Linked DNA regions of Homo sapiens. The protein of the gene in region 3 interacts with the protein of the main gene of each other region in a biochemical or structural test. Each region holds a gene or a part of one and is shown on either strand. Other genes may lie near its edges.

Region 1 (4,108 bases), on a different chromosome or scaffold from region 3:
ATATATTAGATCTGCCCTCTATTTAGTGCTTCAACTTTAGTACAATTAATTTCTAAATTATGCCATAGTTATTGGTGCAAAGATAGACACATAGACCAGTGGAAAAGAACAGAGAGTCCAGAAATAGACGCACACATATACAGTGGGTCTTACAGATTTCCACAAAGGCATTATTATGATTCATTAGGAAAAAGATGGTCTTTTCAACAAATGGTGCTGAAGCAATTGGATGTCCTTTTAGGGGAGGAAAAATGAAACTTGACCTCTGCCTCATAGCACACACAAAAATTAATTCAAGATGGAGCAAAAACTTAAATGTGAAAAGTAAAACCATAAAGCTTGTAGAAGAAAACAGGAGATCTTCATAGCCTTGGGCTAGGCAAAAATTTTCTTAAACAGGACACGAAAAGCACTAACCACAGAAAAGAAAACTTGATAAATTGGACTATACTAAAACTAAGAACATCTGTTTTAAAATCCCATGGGAAAAATCCATAGCATGTCTTCAAGATCTCTGGCAGAAAATCAGGCTGGAACTTGCCCATTAGCACTCCAGAATCTGCCCCCTGCCCAAGACCGATGACCCTGCTACCTGTATTGGCAATAGGGAGATGGACACAGGTTAAAGTAAGTAGGTTTTGGCAGGGCTGAGGCCCTCAGATCCTCACAATAAAATTGTCTTGCATTCCTTGTGTGGTTTGGATATGAGAGAAGCAGCTTTGTTCCCGAGCTCCCCCTCAAATCTCTGAAAACTGGTATGCTCTTCTCAGAACAATCCTTTGAGATCCCCTGAGCTTTGAAGTCCTCCTGCCAAGTCTGTGTGTGGGAAGGAGAACAGAGCAGCATGAGGGCCATCAGAGAGGTGGGCGAAGGCAGTTCAAAGCCCAGCCAGATCCGGCTCTGTGGTGTCCAAACCCTTGGGGTCCCATAGCCCTAGAGGAAGCCCGGGATAGGGTGAGGCCCAGCCCTTTGCAGGGTTCTGTATTGCTGCATCCAGACTAGGAAATGTCTGAGACAGAGCCAGAAACGTAAATACTGCACCACTGTGCTCACCACATTCATGTTTGCAGCAGAAGAGCCAAGCCCCCTGGCCAGGATATATGCTTCCTATTCAGACCTATGGTTTGGAGGGAAGGAAGCATGAAATGTATTTAGAGCTTTCCAAACTTTTGATTGTTTTGCACATTCCTACAAAAATAAAAATATCCCATGAGATTAAAAAAAATCAGCTTCTAATGCTTTAGATGAGTGGGAAAATCTTGCACACTGGGGTCATTTCCTTTCTGTTTCAAGAAATTAATATTGTGCTGGAAATAGCCTGTTGCAGAAGGGGAGACTTTATGTCCTTTGAATGCTGATTATGCCAGAAAACTTTCCAGTCCTAAAGGGGAGGTTGTCCCTTTCCCAGGACTCTGATGCAAGATGACCCTGCAGTTTGTACTTTGCTAGGATAGGAGACCCAAGTCAGCAGAGATTTAAAATTCAGAAGGGATCATTAATTTATTCATTCAAGAAACCATGCTAAGCATGGAATAAGAGCCAGGTTAGGTTCTGGAGTCTCACACTGCCCCACATGAGGATCCCAGACTGCCAGCTCCATGACCCTCCTCTGCGGACGGTCCCAAGTCTTTCTGAAGGCCCCTGGTGATTGAACCCTGGCATTCAGAATTAGCAGAAGTGACATACTAATTACCAGTAACTAAAAAGTTGGTGTTCACATCTCTATTGCAGATGCCGGGAAGCCAGGCCGTCAGGGGACAGGCGCAGTCAGCAAGCACCCGCTCTCTCGGTATCTGTTGGCTTCCACAGTTTTGTGTTTCAGAGCCAAACCAGAAATCACCCAGGGGGTTACTTGCATCAGCTCTGGAAAATGTGTAAAGGATTGAAGTCCTGAGACTTTCCCATAATGTCTTATTTAGGCATCAGTCTCCCTCAGTTGATTAGAGCAGGAATCAGCAAATTTCTTTATAAAAGGCCAGTGACAGTGACTATTTTAGCCATACAGTCTCAGCCACAACTGCTCTAGCAGCCAGAGACCACAGGAAACAAATAAGTGTGGCTGTGTTCCAACAGAACTTTATTTTATGGACATTTCCTTTACAATTTTCACACGTCATGAAATATCCATCTTTTAATTTTTTTTCAACCATTTGAAACTGCAGGCCGGGCATAGTGGCTCACGCCTGTAATCCCAACACTTTGGGAGGCCAAGGTGGGGGGATCGCTTGAGCTCAGGGGTTCGAGACCAGCCTGGCCAACGTGGCAAAATGCTGTTTCTACTGAAAACACAAAAATTAGCTGGGCATGCACTTGTAGTCCTAGCTACTTGGGAGACTGAGTCATGGGAATTGCTTGAGCTTGAACCCGGGAGGCGGAGGTTGCCGTGAGCCAAGATCATGCCACTGCACTCCAGCCTGAGCAACAGAGTAAGGTTCTGTCTCAAAAAAATAAAATTTTTCTTAATTTAAAAAAACAAAAATCCAAACACCATTCTTAGCTCATAAGCCATGCAAAAACAGATGGCAGGCCAGATTTGGCCCACAGGCCATAGTTAGCTAACCCAGGACCAGAGAGTCATACCACTTTCATAGCAAAAAGGATACACATGGTTTGTGTTGACTCTGAGTAGGGAACTTCTCCAGAGGGTGCCATGATACAGAAGGTGGGGGGTGTGTTCCCTAATTGGGGGAATGGAGAAGCATCATTCTGGCCTCTCTCAGTGGCCCCATACCTGCTGACTCTATTTAGGCCGTGGCTTGAGGGTGCCCCCCACTTGCCAATGCCTCCTGCCAGGGACCTGGACACTGAGAACGCTGGGAAAGGGCCCTCTCCTTGGGGACCCTGGTCACACCCAATAGATCAGTCACTCTTCTTCCTTCTTACCAGCTGCCTCTCCTGAGCACACTGGAAGAAGGACCCCTGTACCACCTTCCTCGACACCCGGGCCTCTTCTGTTCAAAGGTGCCTCCTGGCCAGGCATGGTGGCTCACACCTGTAATCCCAGCAGTTGGGGAGGCTGAGGCAGGAGAATTACTTGAAGCCAGGAATTCGGGACCAGCCTGGGCAACATAGCAAGACCCCGTCTCTACAAAAATAAAAAATAAAAATTAACTGACATGGTGGTGCACGCCTATAGTCCCAGCTACTCGGGAGGCTGGGGTGGGAGGATCGCTGGAGACCAGGAGTTTGAGGCTGCAGTGAGCTATGATCAAGCCACTGCGCTCCAGCCTGGGTGGCAGAATGAGATTCTGTATCAAAAAAATAATAATAAAATTAAATTAAAAATAAAGATGTCCCTTCCAATCCCCTGACGCACACAGCACTCCACATGTTTCTTTTCTTCCCTGCCTCATCACCCTTTTCAACCTTAGATCCTAAGCTTCTTGAGGCAGAGACTTCCATCTTGTCTGGGTGCTTAGCACATTTTCAAATATTCTCTTAGATTTTTTTTCTTCATTACCCATGGAGCGGTTGCTTGTTGCCTTTCCAACCCAAAATAGAAATAGTGGTAAACAAAAGAAGAAAAACATTGAACATTTTGGAACTAAAATTTTATTACTACTGGAAAAGTCCCAGATAATAAAAAAACAGCTGGTAAATTAGCACTCATTTAAGCATGGTCTGGGGAAGAAGAAAATTTTAATAACACATTTTTCTTCCTAATTGTTTTTGTTTGTTTAGATTTATGCATTCCCAAAGTGGACCTTAAAATCATGTTGGTGGCAGGAGGAAGCCAGTGTGGTCTTTGAAATTTGCTTCAGATAATCCATCAAGGGGATGGCCTCATAAACAAAATTATTATTTTCTCCCTAAGATGCTGACTCATGTGAAGGACTGTTTAAAAGATGACTTTGGCTTTGTGCCCTCTCCTGCAGGTCCTTCCATAGTGACGCCCCCCAAGGACATCTGGAATGTCACTGGTGCCCAGGTGTACTTGAGCTGTGAGGTCATCGGAATCCCGACACCTGTCCTCATCTGGAACAAGGTCTGTGGCACAGACTTTAAGAGACATCCTAGGCTGACAAGCTTCTCTTGCACTGCACAAGGATGGTAAAACGTTAAATCCTCAGCCTGCTTTGTTGACTGCGGCTCCCGCAAGGTGAAGCCT
Region 2 (3,488 bases), on a different chromosome or scaffold from region 3:
TATTTTATTCTCTAATTATTTTATCAATGAGATTATAATTTCCTGAACTGTAAAGAGATATTATCTTTCCTTAACATTTTTACACCTGTGTTCGTTCCTAGAATGCTGTTTGGCCCTCAAACCTTGACCTTCACCCATGGTGGTTTCTCGGGGATGCTAGCTAGGGTCTACTTACGGGAGGTTGAGCACTTTTTCAGATTAGTAATGCCTGCGACATACTGTGGTCCCAAATATTTTTCATATGTTGTTTTGCCATGGAGTCTGGCCAGACACTCAGTGTTGTCATTGAACAGAAGGTTTTTGGTTTCAGACTGGAATAAGCAAAACTTGTCCGGGCAGTCAGATCCATTTCTCCCAAATTTAGCCTGCGACAAAAGGGCAGACAGTGAGTAGCTAAGGAAAAGAGGAATTTATGGGTTAAAGGAGGCAAAGGGGTATTTCTTCCACCCAAGAACAGCCCTGAGAAAACCATGGGGCAGAAGGAGCTGAGTTCTGGAGTCATTCCACCTCCTTAGTGGAGTCCCCCACCCCACACTCCTGGTGGCAGGCCCGCCTTGGGCAGCATCCAGGCCTCGCACCACTTCTGGTCCTACCTCCTACCATCTGCCATCTTTCCTTCCTTCTTAACCTGTGACCTTTTCCCATACAACTTCTTATGGGTGACAAGGCAACAATGGAGGGGTTTTGAGATCTGCCCTCACAAGTCAATTGCTCAGGACATTCTAATATGCAGCTCTTCTAGAGAGGCAGGCTGCTAGGAAAACCCAGGCTCAGCCACTAACCAGCTCAGTGTGCAGGTCGGTCACCCTGCCTCCCTCACACAGTTCCTGCTCTGTCCCAGGCTCCCATGTGGGGAGACTGAGACCCAAACCCCTCAGTCACGGCAGCTCTCTCACCAGCACCACTGTGTGTGCACATTAAGAGCTCCATAAAGGCCAGTTATGGTGGCCAGTCTTGTTATTCCTGAGTTGTTTTCTTCAAAAGCACACAGAGACATGATGTTATATGATAAAAATAGAAGTTCTAATAAAATCCCAGATTTTAAGAAAATTTTGGGATTTCGTTCAAATCACATTTAGAGAGCCCTAAATCTATAGGGCACCTTCTGAGTTTGCTGTTTTAGAGGCCTGGCCTAGAGCACTGTTCACTCGGCCCAGGTTCAGGAAATGTCACCTGAGTAAAAAGCACTATACTAATGCATGTGGGAGGAAGGCTCAGTGGCTTCCTCATTTGCCAGAAGAACAGCAGGAGGGAAAAAGACAGCCTCTGAGCCAGGCAGTGATGGCAACAAGGCCAGGGCACAGAGTCTCAGCAGAAATGGAGTGAGTCCCAGAAAGCCCAGAGTCAAAAGCCTCTGTTGTTCTTGTTGACACTCTGGGCAACGCCACAGCATGAAGCCAATACTCTCACCATGAGCTTCAAGTAGAGGACTAGAGAGGATCGAGTGGGCTGGTGCACCTAGCTCTGTGATCTCCTCACCTAACATGAGCCCACACAGCTAAGAAAGCACTAGAAGCCCTGTGGTCCATACCTGTTGGTGGAGCAACACCTGTTTCAGGCGTTCCACCTTATCCATCCGAGACACCACGGCATGATTCGGGGCCATGGCAAGATGGCAGCTTCTAGCCTCAGTCACAGGCTTCCGTTTGCCATCGAGGCACAGCAGCGCAAAGTCTGCCAGCTTCAAATCCTTAGCCCATGCCTCATTGTTATTTCCTGGGGAGAAAAAGAAGGTGGCATCATCCACGCCTCCCCTGCTTAGCCAAGAAGTCTCTTCTGGGTGGGTGTGGCCATTCCACTGACCTCCCAAATGCACACACTGGGGTTGTGGTGATGTGAGGAACAGAGAAGGAGCTTCATCCTACACAAGCTGTACAAACTTCAAATATACCAAATATTAGTGCTGTGTCCATGCAATGGAATGTTATTCAGCAATAAAAGGGAGTGAAGTTCTGGTACATCCTGCAATATGCATGAACCTCGAAAACGATGCTAAGTGAAAGAAGCCAGTCACAAAAGACCACACAATAGGCTGGGCACGGTGGCTCATGCCTGTAATCCCAGCCCTTTGGAGGCCAAGGTGGGAGAATCACTTGAAGCTAGGAGTTCATGACCAGCTTGGGCAACATAGCAAGACCTCATCTCAAAAAAAAAAACCCACCACATATTATATGACTCCATTTATATGAAATGTCCAGAATAGGCCAACCTATGGAGACAGAAAGTGGATTGATGGTTGCCAATGCTGAAGAAGGATAGGGCAATGACTGATAATAGGTGCAAGGGTTTCTTTATGGGAGGATACAAGCGTTCTAGAGTTGGATTGTGTTGATGGCTGCACAACTCTGTGAATGTGCTGGAGATCACTGAATTGTACACTTTGCATGGGTGGATTTTTTAGTATATGAATTCTACCTCAATAAAGCTGTTTAGAGTTCTTATTTTTTTAAAGAAGAAAACCCTCCACCTATGCCATATTTTTCAGTGAGTTCCAGAAAAAGAATAGATGGTTTACATTCAAGGAGAAATTGGTTTCTCCTCCCTTTCATATTCAAATGCTATTAGTGTAACCAGAGAAAGGAAAGGAACTTTTATAGGTTTATCAAATATATACAGCCAATTCTAACAAAATACAGTTGTAAAGTACCGGAGAAAGTTAAAATTAAATTTGACATCAATCTGATCCCTGGAGATTACTTCAGTTAATGGCTTGTAAATTCTAAATGTAATTGTATGCATGTCTATGTTTGTGCAGATGCCGGCTCATTGTTCCGGCTCCCGTTTGTCTCTCTGCTCTCTCCCTTTAAGAAAGCACTTTATTCATTCTCTTGGATTCCTCTATTTGATATTGAAATAATTTCAAATTTACATGTCTTGTTTTAATCTCTGTCCCAAGAGACACTAGAAGGAGCAGAAGCAGAAGGGAGAAGTGGCTGAGACTGCAGTGATTACTGAAGGAGGGAGGCCGAAAGTGGAGACAGTTCTTTCTCAGGAAACAGAATAGCAAGTCACCTGCTGAGACTTGGGGGTTGGAATGCTGAAGTGGGGCTAAGGAGACAGATGCAGATTGGAAGGTAGCAAATGGCTGAGGACCAGGAGAGAGAGTGATTGTTCAAACATTGGCTGGAAGATTATCTTCCATCATCTGCAACCACCTGTAATTTTGTTCCCACTAACTCCCAAGGAGTCTCCAGACCAAGGCTCACATGGGGATGAATGAAGGCCTCTACTTCCTTTTTCATAAAGGGAGGCTTCATTTGCATATGTTCACCCAGTTTGTAGCATCATCCACAGTTTCCAATAGGCATGCATGATCTCATGTGGGCAGACAGTGTGTTTCTGTGGTTGACTAGAGGAAGCCAGGGAGACATTTGCTACTGAGCATGGCTAGTATCTGTGTGTGTGAGAGTGAGTGTGTGTGTGTGTGTGAGAGAAAGAGAGAGAGTGTGTGTGTATGAATTTCGTTTCAAAATCCATATGACACCTAC
Region 3 (4,108 bases):
AACTAGTCTCCCTAAAAGTGCATCATATCTCTATGGGAGAGATGGGAAAGCTTCCCTCCTCCAGACTAGAGCTAAGGATGGTCTGATGTTACAAGTTTTCATTACGCTGCCTGACACCAGTGCTGATGAGCACCTGTGAAATTTATTTTTTTAATTAATAGATTTGAAGGCCAAGCAAGATGGCCCACACCTATAATCCTAGAGTTTTGGGAGACCAAAGTGGGAGGATTGCTGGAGGCCAGGAGTTCTAGACCAGCCTGGGCAATGTAGTGGGACCCCATCTCTACCAAAAAAAATAAAATTAAAAATTAGCCAGGTATGGTGGTACATGTCTATAATCCCAGCTACTCAGGTGGCTGAGGCATGAGAATCACTTGAACCTGGGAAGCAGAGGTTGCAGTGAGCCAAAATCGTGCTGTTGCACTCCAGCCTGGGTGACAGAGTGAGACTCTGTCTCAAAAAAAATAAAAAAAATAAAGCCAGGCATCGTGGCACACAACCTGTAGTCCCAGCTACCCAAGAGGCTGAGGCTACCCAGGAGGCTGAGATGGAAGGATTACTTGAACCCAGCGTTTAAGGTTGCATTGAGCTATGATTTTGCACCATTGCACTCCAGCTTGGGCAACAGAGCCAAGAGCCAGTCTCTAAATTAATTAATTAAAATAATAAAATTTAAAAATAAAATTAGTAGACTTTATATTTTAGAATAGCTTTAGGTTTTACTGTGTGGAATTTTTTTTTTTTTTTTTTTTTTTTTTTTGAGACAGAGTCAGAGTCTTGCTGTGTCGCCAAGGCTGGAGTGCAGTGTCACGATCTCAGCTCACTGCAGCCTCCACCTCCCGGGTTCAAGCAATTCTCCTGCCTCGGCCTCCCAAGCAGCTGGGATTACAGGTGCTCGCCACCACACCTGGCTAGTTTTTTGTAGACACGGGGTTTCACCATATTGGCCAGGCTGGTCTCAAACTCCTGACCTCAGATGATCCACCCAACTCGGCCTCCCAAAGTGCTGGGATTACAGGCCTGAGCCACCACCACCCGCCCAGCCGGAATTTTTTAAACAACATTTTTCATTCTTGATTCGTGCCTCACTTTGATAAGCATAAAGGTTTCTGAGCCTCTTTTAATAATAGTTGAAATTCAAAATAAATATCATGATTAAACCAGAAAGCAGTGGGACAAACCGATTCTTTCAAACTACTATGTCCTCTCTCGTCACTGTTTTCAAGGAAGTGAAGCCTTTCAGACTAGCTAGCACAGTGGGGCTTGCAGTTGAGGGAATTCTCAGCCATCTGTCAACAAACGATGCGATTTAATAGCCATGAATATCATACATGCAACGAGGTACACCATGACATCGTGCACTTGGAAAAGTTCCTCAAATCCCCAACCTCTTGGTGGAAGCTTCAAGCACGTGGATGTCTGCACACGCATTCCCTCTCCCACAAACACTGTACACAAACATGTAAGATACTGGATTACAAAAACCATCTTTGAAAGAGTAATACCCTATTTGTTAACAGGTAATTTCAGCTCAAAGTAGCTTATGCTTGTGGTCCTTGATGGAAAGAAAAGCCTGGACTTGGAAATGCAGGGGAAAACCATGGTTTCCCTCTTACAAGAGGTGCCCTGGATGGGGTTCCCAGGTTTAAAGATACAAATGCCCAAGAAGAGTAAATTAATCCATCCCAGTTGCTTCTGATTGATCAAGAAGATGCTAGCACTATACTCTTATTTGTTTGTTTTGTATAAGACTTGAGTTCCTACCTGAACTGGCTTATTTTGAAAACTTGTAAAATTTTACTATCTTTATTTCTAGATGTATTACTTTTAAATATGTTAAGTAAAAAAGATATGTTGTCCAGTTGATATCATTCTTCTTTTTTTGATGTTGGGGAAGGAGTTTGCACCAATATACAATATTATTTAATTTGTGCCTTAACAGTTGGGTGGGTAAGTGGAATCTTTTAAAAACCTGCAACCATAAGATCCACTTGTGGTCTTTAGGTTTTCAGATACTGTTTTTAAAACCCGCATGGCTACAGTTCTGTTTCACAAGCTGGTATTCCCTGAGCTCTGGGCCCTGGAATGCTGCAGGAGCCATATACCCACTCCCCACCTTCCCTGGTCTTAAATGACTGAGCAGTGCCAGGAAGGGTTTGCTGGTGCTGGGACATGGCTCCATCCAGGGCCATGCACTGAAGCAACAAGTTCAGAGTCAGCTAACAGCTGCTGATTTCCTACTATATCCTAGGCAGGCACATTCACACTGCTTTATTTTTTTTTATTTACTTACCTAGAAAGACTGGAAATGCCTTATAAAAGGGAAAAAGTCAATTTTGTTTTTCCCTTGTGAGAGTCCTAAAATGCTTTCAAATTGTACTTTCCTAGGTAAAAATCAGGTTTATTCCCCCTACCCCAGCCTGAATTCTGGAAAACACTGAGTCTGAAGCACCTACTTCTAAAAACTACCTGTCTTCCCCTAGAGTTGCTGACTCCCCAGTTACCTCAAGAGCCCTCCTCAGACAGCTTTCCTCTGTTGTTTTATTCCCGGGCACAACCTGGAGCCTCTGGTCCCCAAGAGCAGCACCTGAGGGAAAGCCCCTTTTTTGTTCCTCAGGCCTTGAGAAGGGAAGGAAGGGTCAGCAGTGCTCAAGGGTCCCAGTCATGCCACCTGCTTGCTTGCATGTGGCCAGGACAAGGGATAGCTGGAAAGTAAAGGCACCCATTTTGTTGACCAGGATTTCTTTTCACCAGAGTAATGTTGAATAGCCCCACAAAGACTTTAGGGAGATCCTTGGGGACAGAAGACATTTCAATAGGCCACTAAGTGTTAATTAAGTAGTATTATTAAGTTCATGAAGCCTTTGTTTGGAGAAAAAAAGATTCCCAGTATTGTTAGTCAGCTTTGGCCTATTTGCCTGTTTGGTGGGGGTAGAGCTGGTTATCTTGATCTTAAACGTGCCATTTCTACAACCACTCCAAGGGAGTTCCTCAGAAAAGTTTATTCTCAGACTCTGGGCTTCTAATTTTATCTGTTTCCATCTCAGATGGATAATGAAGCCTCATAGAAAGTAGTACATGGAATCTCTGTCTTCATAGAAAGTAGTATGTGAAATCTGTGTGGAAATTTCAGATTCTTTAGCTAAACGCAGTTAATTGAATCCTTAGCCAGTGTGGGAAGGAAAGAGCCATTTATTCTCTTACATGCAGATGGGTATGTCTGAGTCCCCAGACTGGAAGCAGTAAAAGATGGTGCCATCAGCCAGTGGTTCATGCTTTTAGTACTAGATGGGACCATCAGAGTTCAATTCCATTTGCATTTATTTTAAGACATGAAAGCCGATTAAACAGCTACTTATTTATTTGGCCTAAATACCCATTAAATGCTTCATTCAGCAGTTTTAACAAAGGCAGAATGAATTAGGAATGTACTCGAAAAAGAAGGGACTTCTTTCTATCCTTTTAGCAGGACAAAATAGAAAATTTATGTGTTGGCTTATGGATTTATATTTTGTGACATATTCAAATAGATACTTGTAATAACTCATGTAATCCATGTTTATTATAGTAGAATTGGAAAATACAGATAAGCCAAAAGAAAAATATTATTTTAATCCTGACCACTCTTCCCTGCAAGATAATAACTGTTAACATTTTAGTGTATATTCCTTTTTTTCTATATATATGTAGACATATGCAAAAGAGTATCTTCATTTTTAAAAAACAACGTAAAAATCAATGGCTAATTGACCAGATCTAGCCAGCTGCCACCAAAAAACCAAGGGAGTGTTTGGATTGTATGGGAGGTGGGAAGGGGGTGACTTTGCTCTTAAACTGTGATTTGTGTGTGTTTGTGCAAGCATGTTAAGCATTTCTCTGTCTTGTGTTCATTCACAGCTGTGATTAGTGCCCATCCCATCCATTCCCTCGATAACCCTCACCATCATTTCCACTCCAGCAGCCTCGCTTCTCCAGCTCGCAGTCATCTCTACCACCCGGGCAGCCCATGGCCCATTGGCACATCCATGTCCCTTTCAGACAGGGCCAATTCCACAGGTGAGAGATGAGGATCAAGCCCAGATGGAAACCATTCCAAAAGAGTCGGCAA
Region 4 (4,616 bases), on a different chromosome or scaffold from region 3:
AGCCCAGGATCACAGTGGGCTGTGATCAAGCCATTGTATTCCACCTGGGAGATACAGTGAGACCCTGTCTCAAAAAAAAAAAAAAAAAAAAAGGATGCAAAAGCAATTTCCAACAGTAAGAATTATTCATATGTGAGTCTTCCATACATGTGTGCGGATCAAAGGATCACTCTCATTATGTGGCAGTTTGGGGCATTTCAGGGCATAGGAGGAAAGGGCAGAATTTAAGCCTGAAAACTGCTTCCCCAGGCTCCTCAGAGGCATGTATAAGGGCCCTTCACACACTGTGAACAACATAATAAATACTTCCCGAGGCCTCATTCCATGAAATCTAGGTGCTTGGGTACCCAAGGAGTCAGGAGGGGTGATTTTATCATGAATATTGAAGCAGAACAGCCCTGCTCTGACTCACAGTCTGTTTTCCTTCAACCGGGATCCCCAGAGGCATTGTTAAAAAACGCTCCCGCTGTGTCTTGTGAATAAAAGATGGCTTTAGGGCAGCACAGAATGAGCTGCTGCCTGGGCTAGGAAACATCCCCTGTCCAAACCTTCATGCTTTATCTGGACACAAGGGCAGAGGCCACACTAGCACTTCAGGACAGAGAGTGACAGGCAAACAGTGCCCGGTTCTGTGGTGGATGACACAAAGGCTGGTGCGGAAGAAGGGCTGAACCCCGGGGAGGCCTGACGCCTGTCAGTAATGAGATCATGAAAACCAGTTCTGAGTTGCTTCCATGTGGCCCCACGAATATCTTTATTCCCTGGGTCTGTGCCTGGGGTGGGCCTCAGATCCCATAGATCAGAGTGAAGGGGCTGTCACATTTACTTGTCATTTGGTAATTTTCAGTGAATTAGGGGTATGGAGTTTCCATCTGCCATCTGGCCTCACTCTGGTAACCATGGTAACCACCATCTGCCTGACTTAATACTATTAAGTCCTGTGCCAAAAGAGCACTGGACAGGGTGTTGGGACCAGGGAGCTGGTCATCCTTTACTGGTCACCCTGGACAAGGGCTCTGACCTTGCTGTGTCTCAGTCTCTTTCTCTGTATAACAGCAGATTTGGTCTGAATGTCTTTAAGGTGCCTTTCTCTTAGGAAGAGAATGCCACTCTGGGGAGAAATTATCTGAGATCATCAGCAGCATTTATAGTCTGAGGACCTGGTCAGCATTTCTTCTGTCTCCTGCATGTGGAGTTAAAAGTGTTACCTGTCTGGAGACAAAGAGAATTGCCTGTGAATTAACGGCTGAGGAAAGCAGTTATAAAAACGAGTGATAGGAACTAGCAAAAGGAAAGAGACAGGACTGTTTAAGTGCCACAGGGCGGAAACCAACTGTTCCGAGTGAAAGGGACCTCAACAATGACTCCACTGGGGCTGATATGGCCAGAGAGGGGAAGGGACCCGTCCAGGGCCACTCAGGGAGCCAGCGGCAGCACAGATGCACCCCCAGCCAGCTCTGTCCTCCATGGGGAGCTTCAGCTAGGAACAGCCAATGGTGACTTTCCTGTGCTCAACTGGCCACACACTGGTTTTACATTTCCCAGGACTGGAGGCTTCCTGCCCCATCTCCAACAACCCATTGCGTCTCCTGGACTTGGGTACATCTACCTGAACTACTTGAGAGGAAAGACTACTAGATACTTCTTAAGGCTTGGAAAGGTCTCACCCCACCCCAGGCTTCTTTCTTGAAGCTAAGTCATTACACTGACTTAGGCACTAAAGTCTGGACTTGGTCTCTGGGCTCAGGCCAGAATTATTTCCCAGAAGCCTGAACTCCAGGCCGAAACCCAGGCTCCTTGGGACTCACTGGCCACCTTCTCACTCACCCTAAACTCAGCACTGCCCACTCCAGGCAAAGTACACAGCGGCACTTCAAAACCTAGTGGGTGGAATACACTCATGCTTAGGAAGCCGGTAAAGCAGTGCTAACGTTTTGGTTTCTTTTTGTTTGGTTTTCAAAAGGTACATAAAGAGGGTGGGCAACTATAGCACTCAGAGATTATTTTACTGTGATGTTAATGAAGCTTAAGTTTCTAAGTCCCTAGCATTTCATAATAAGTTTCTAAGTCCCTAGCAGTTCTATTCCTTTACTTAAGGCAGGACTCTCCAAATTATATATGTTTTAGAAGCACGAAACCTGAGTCTGCCCCTAATAGCACCACAATCTTTTCAGACCTTACGTCTCCAAAGGTCTTACTTCTCCTGGATGGAGCTCCCTCAGCATCCCAGCTCAGCCCCTTCCCACACCGGGGGCCCTGGTGCTCTGGTGCTGTGGCCTGGTGACTACTGATTCCCCAGTCTGGAACTCATCCTCCTCCTGCATCCTCAACTTCCCTTCCTCCCCTATCCTCTACTTCCCTTCCTCCCCCAACCTCAACTTCCCTTCCTCCCCATTCAAACAATCCACCTAGCGCTGGATACCTGGGAACTCGGATCCCCCTCCTTAACTCCCAGTCTCCTGCTGGGCAAACATACCATGCCTACAAATAAGTGACTGCATCAGCAGGTACTTAAGTACCAAAAGGGGTAGCAGGCTCACCAAAAATTCGACTAGCACAGTGAGTGGCGTCTCCAAGGATTCTCGCCCCAGTCTCTCTGAGCACGAGGAGAGATATGAAATACTGCTCCCTAAGGGGAAACTGAGTGCCAGGCAGCGCCGTCCACCACTGGGCAGGGGGATCCTTCGCTCCACACCCCAGAGGGTTGGAATCCCTCCTTCTCTACCCACCCAATCCCCGACCCTGACTCACCGAACTCGCAAGGGCCGTCGCGCGCCTTGTGCAGGTGACCGGGGTGCGCGCGGGGCGTGTGCCGAGCGCGCAGGCGCAGCGCGCAGACGCTGGGGTACGAGCGACCGTCGGAGCCGCAGACGGTGCCGCGCTGCGCGCACACGCAGAGCCCGGTGCCCTCGGGCGCTGCCCCAGCGGCCTGGCTCGCGCATACCAGGCCGGGGCCACAGCGCCCGCCGGCGCGGCCCCCGCAGCTCGCGCCCTCGGCTCCCAGGCAGCGGGCGCAGCAGCCGCACTCGTCGAGCGCCGAGATCCCGGGCGCCGGGCAGGGCGCAGGCGCCGGGCAGCCCTCTGGCCGGCACGGACCACACTTGGGGCGCCGGCCGCCCACGTCGCGGATCCCAAGGCTCGGGGACAGCGGCGGCAGCAGCGGCAGCAGCAGCAGAAGCAGCAGCGGCAAGAGCAGAGACAAGCGCGGCATGGCTTGCTCCGGGACAGCGGCGGCGCCTCTGCTTCGCGCTCCGCTCCGCGCCCGCCGAGCAGTCACCGCTCCCGCCCCGCGGCCGCTGATTGGCCGGGCCTGCACCGCGGGGCGCCCGCAGACCGCTGCTCCAGCCCGGGACCCGCGCGGTGCCCGCGGCCCGGGTCTCCGAGCTGGAGGGTCGCCCCGAGAGCAGCTCTCCGACCTCCGATTGGACTCTTGAGGGAACCGAGACCCAGTCGGGGCGACAACTTGCCCGAGGTCGCTATGGCAGAGTCAGGATTGGATAACCGTACGGTCTCCGGATCCAAGGCTGGCTCCAGATAGTATGCCCGTAAATCCTCCCAGAAGGATGCGCTATTTTATTTAATTTTATTTTGCATTCAGTAGTTTTCAAAGTTTTATTTTATAAAGAGAATATATGGTTTAAAATGTAGATTTTACATATACATCTAAGGATGAAAAGAGGGTTACCCTACCACCTTGTATCCCCATCCTCCAACTCGGCTTCCAGAGGCCACTCTTGCTATCGGGTTTTTGTATATCTTTTCAGAAATTTTCTCTATGCCTATAAAAGTACATGTGCCTAAAAAAGCCCCTTCCTTTAAAACACACACACTCTGTTTCTCTCTCACACACACAGAGTAGCGTGCCATACACATTAGTCTGCACTTGGTTTTTGCACTTACAGTGTTTCACAGTTTCCCCACCTCTTGTCATCTGTGAAACTGGGTTTCTTATACAATCAATGGGAGCATAGTTCATTGGCTCTGTGAGTGTGTTTCTTAATGCTGCATAAAGTCATGGTACATCTCCGTCCACAGTGACTTTGTTGTGATGAGATATGGTGATATATTTTGGAGTTCATACAGAGTGGCCTTTCCACAGGGTTTAGTTGCAGTTATTTAACCACTTATTTTCCATCCTTTGGTTAATACGAATAATGCTTTGATGAAGTCTTGGTGCACAAGGGTCAGTGTACCTGTGGCTTACTGGGGAATGCATGTTGGAAAGATGCAGTTTCTTGTAGTCAGTTATTCATGCCGCCGTTGCGCCTTCTCTGGGCCAGGCTCTGTGCACACCATCCTGCCTGAGTTCTGGCAGGGCACCCAGACGAGAAACCTAAGAGAGTCTTGGCTGCTGGGATTTGATGTGTTGCTGGGTAAATGCACTGGATGGAGGGAGGGACTCGCTGAGCAGGTTTTATAGGAGACTTTTCCTGCCTTTACTGGCCACCCCTCATGTGTCTTGTGCTCTATTGTTTTTTCTTTGCTGAACTCCTGGAGATGGAGAAAGCCTCTTGCAGCCTGGGAAGACCAGCTACACCGTTCTTGGGTGGGGTTCATTTTGCTTTTCAAGCCCAGTTCCTTCCCAGTTTGCAGTCTTCTTATCCCCAGAAAGGAGC

What was found.
Region 1: the proteins of NEO1 (region 3) and IGFBP7 interact in a biophysical measurement, tested with the Homo sapiens proteins (one large-scale study listed by IntAct).
Region 2: the proteins of NEO1 (region 3) and LTF interact in a biophysical measurement, tested with the Homo sapiens proteins (one large-scale study listed by IntAct).
Region 4: the proteins of NEO1 (region 3) and IGFBPL1 interact in a biophysical measurement, tested with the Homo sapiens proteins (one large-scale study listed by IntAct).

What each region holds. Positions count from the first base shown.
Region 1 is NC_000004.12:57,040,701-57,044,808, reverse strand, and holds part of IGFBP7 (insulin-like growth factor-binding protein 7 isoform 1 precursor), read left to right. Parts: intron 1-3,875; coding exon 3,876-3,985; intron 3,986-4,108. UniProt on the Homo sapiens protein: Binds IGF1 and IGF2 with a relatively low affinity. Stimulates prostacyclin (PGI2) production. Stimulates cell adhesion. Acts as a ligand for CD93 to play a role in angiogenesis.
Region 2 is NC_000003.12:46,437,765-46,441,252, forward strand, and holds part of LTF (lactotransferrin isoform 1 preproprotein), read right to left. Parts: intron 1,717-3,488; coding exon 1,532-1,716; intron 366-1,531; coding exon 176-365; intron 1-175. UniProt on the Homo sapiens protein: Transferrins are iron binding transport proteins which can bind two Fe(3+) ions in association with the binding of an anion, usually bicarbonate. Lactoferricin binds to the bacterial surface and is crucial for the bactericidal functions.
Region 3 is NC_000015.10:73,289,493-73,293,600, forward strand, and holds part of NEO1 (neogenin isoform 1 precursor), read left to right. Parts: intron 1-3,897; coding exon 3,898-4,056; intron 4,057-4,108. UniProt on the Homo sapiens protein: Multi-functional cell surface receptor regulating cell adhesion in many diverse developmental processes, including neural tube and mammary gland formation, myogenesis and angiogenesis.
Region 4 is NC_000009.12:38,421,214-38,425,829, forward strand, and holds the start of IGFBPL1 (insulin-like growth factor-binding protein-like 1 precursor), read right to left. Parts: upstream 3,242-4,616; 5' UTR 3,212-3,241; coding exon 2,752-3,211; intron 1-2,751. UniProt on the Homo sapiens protein: IGF-binding proteins prolong the half-life of IGFs and have been shown to either inhibit or stimulate the growth promoting effects of the IGFs in cell culture. They alter the interaction of IGFs with their cell surface receptors.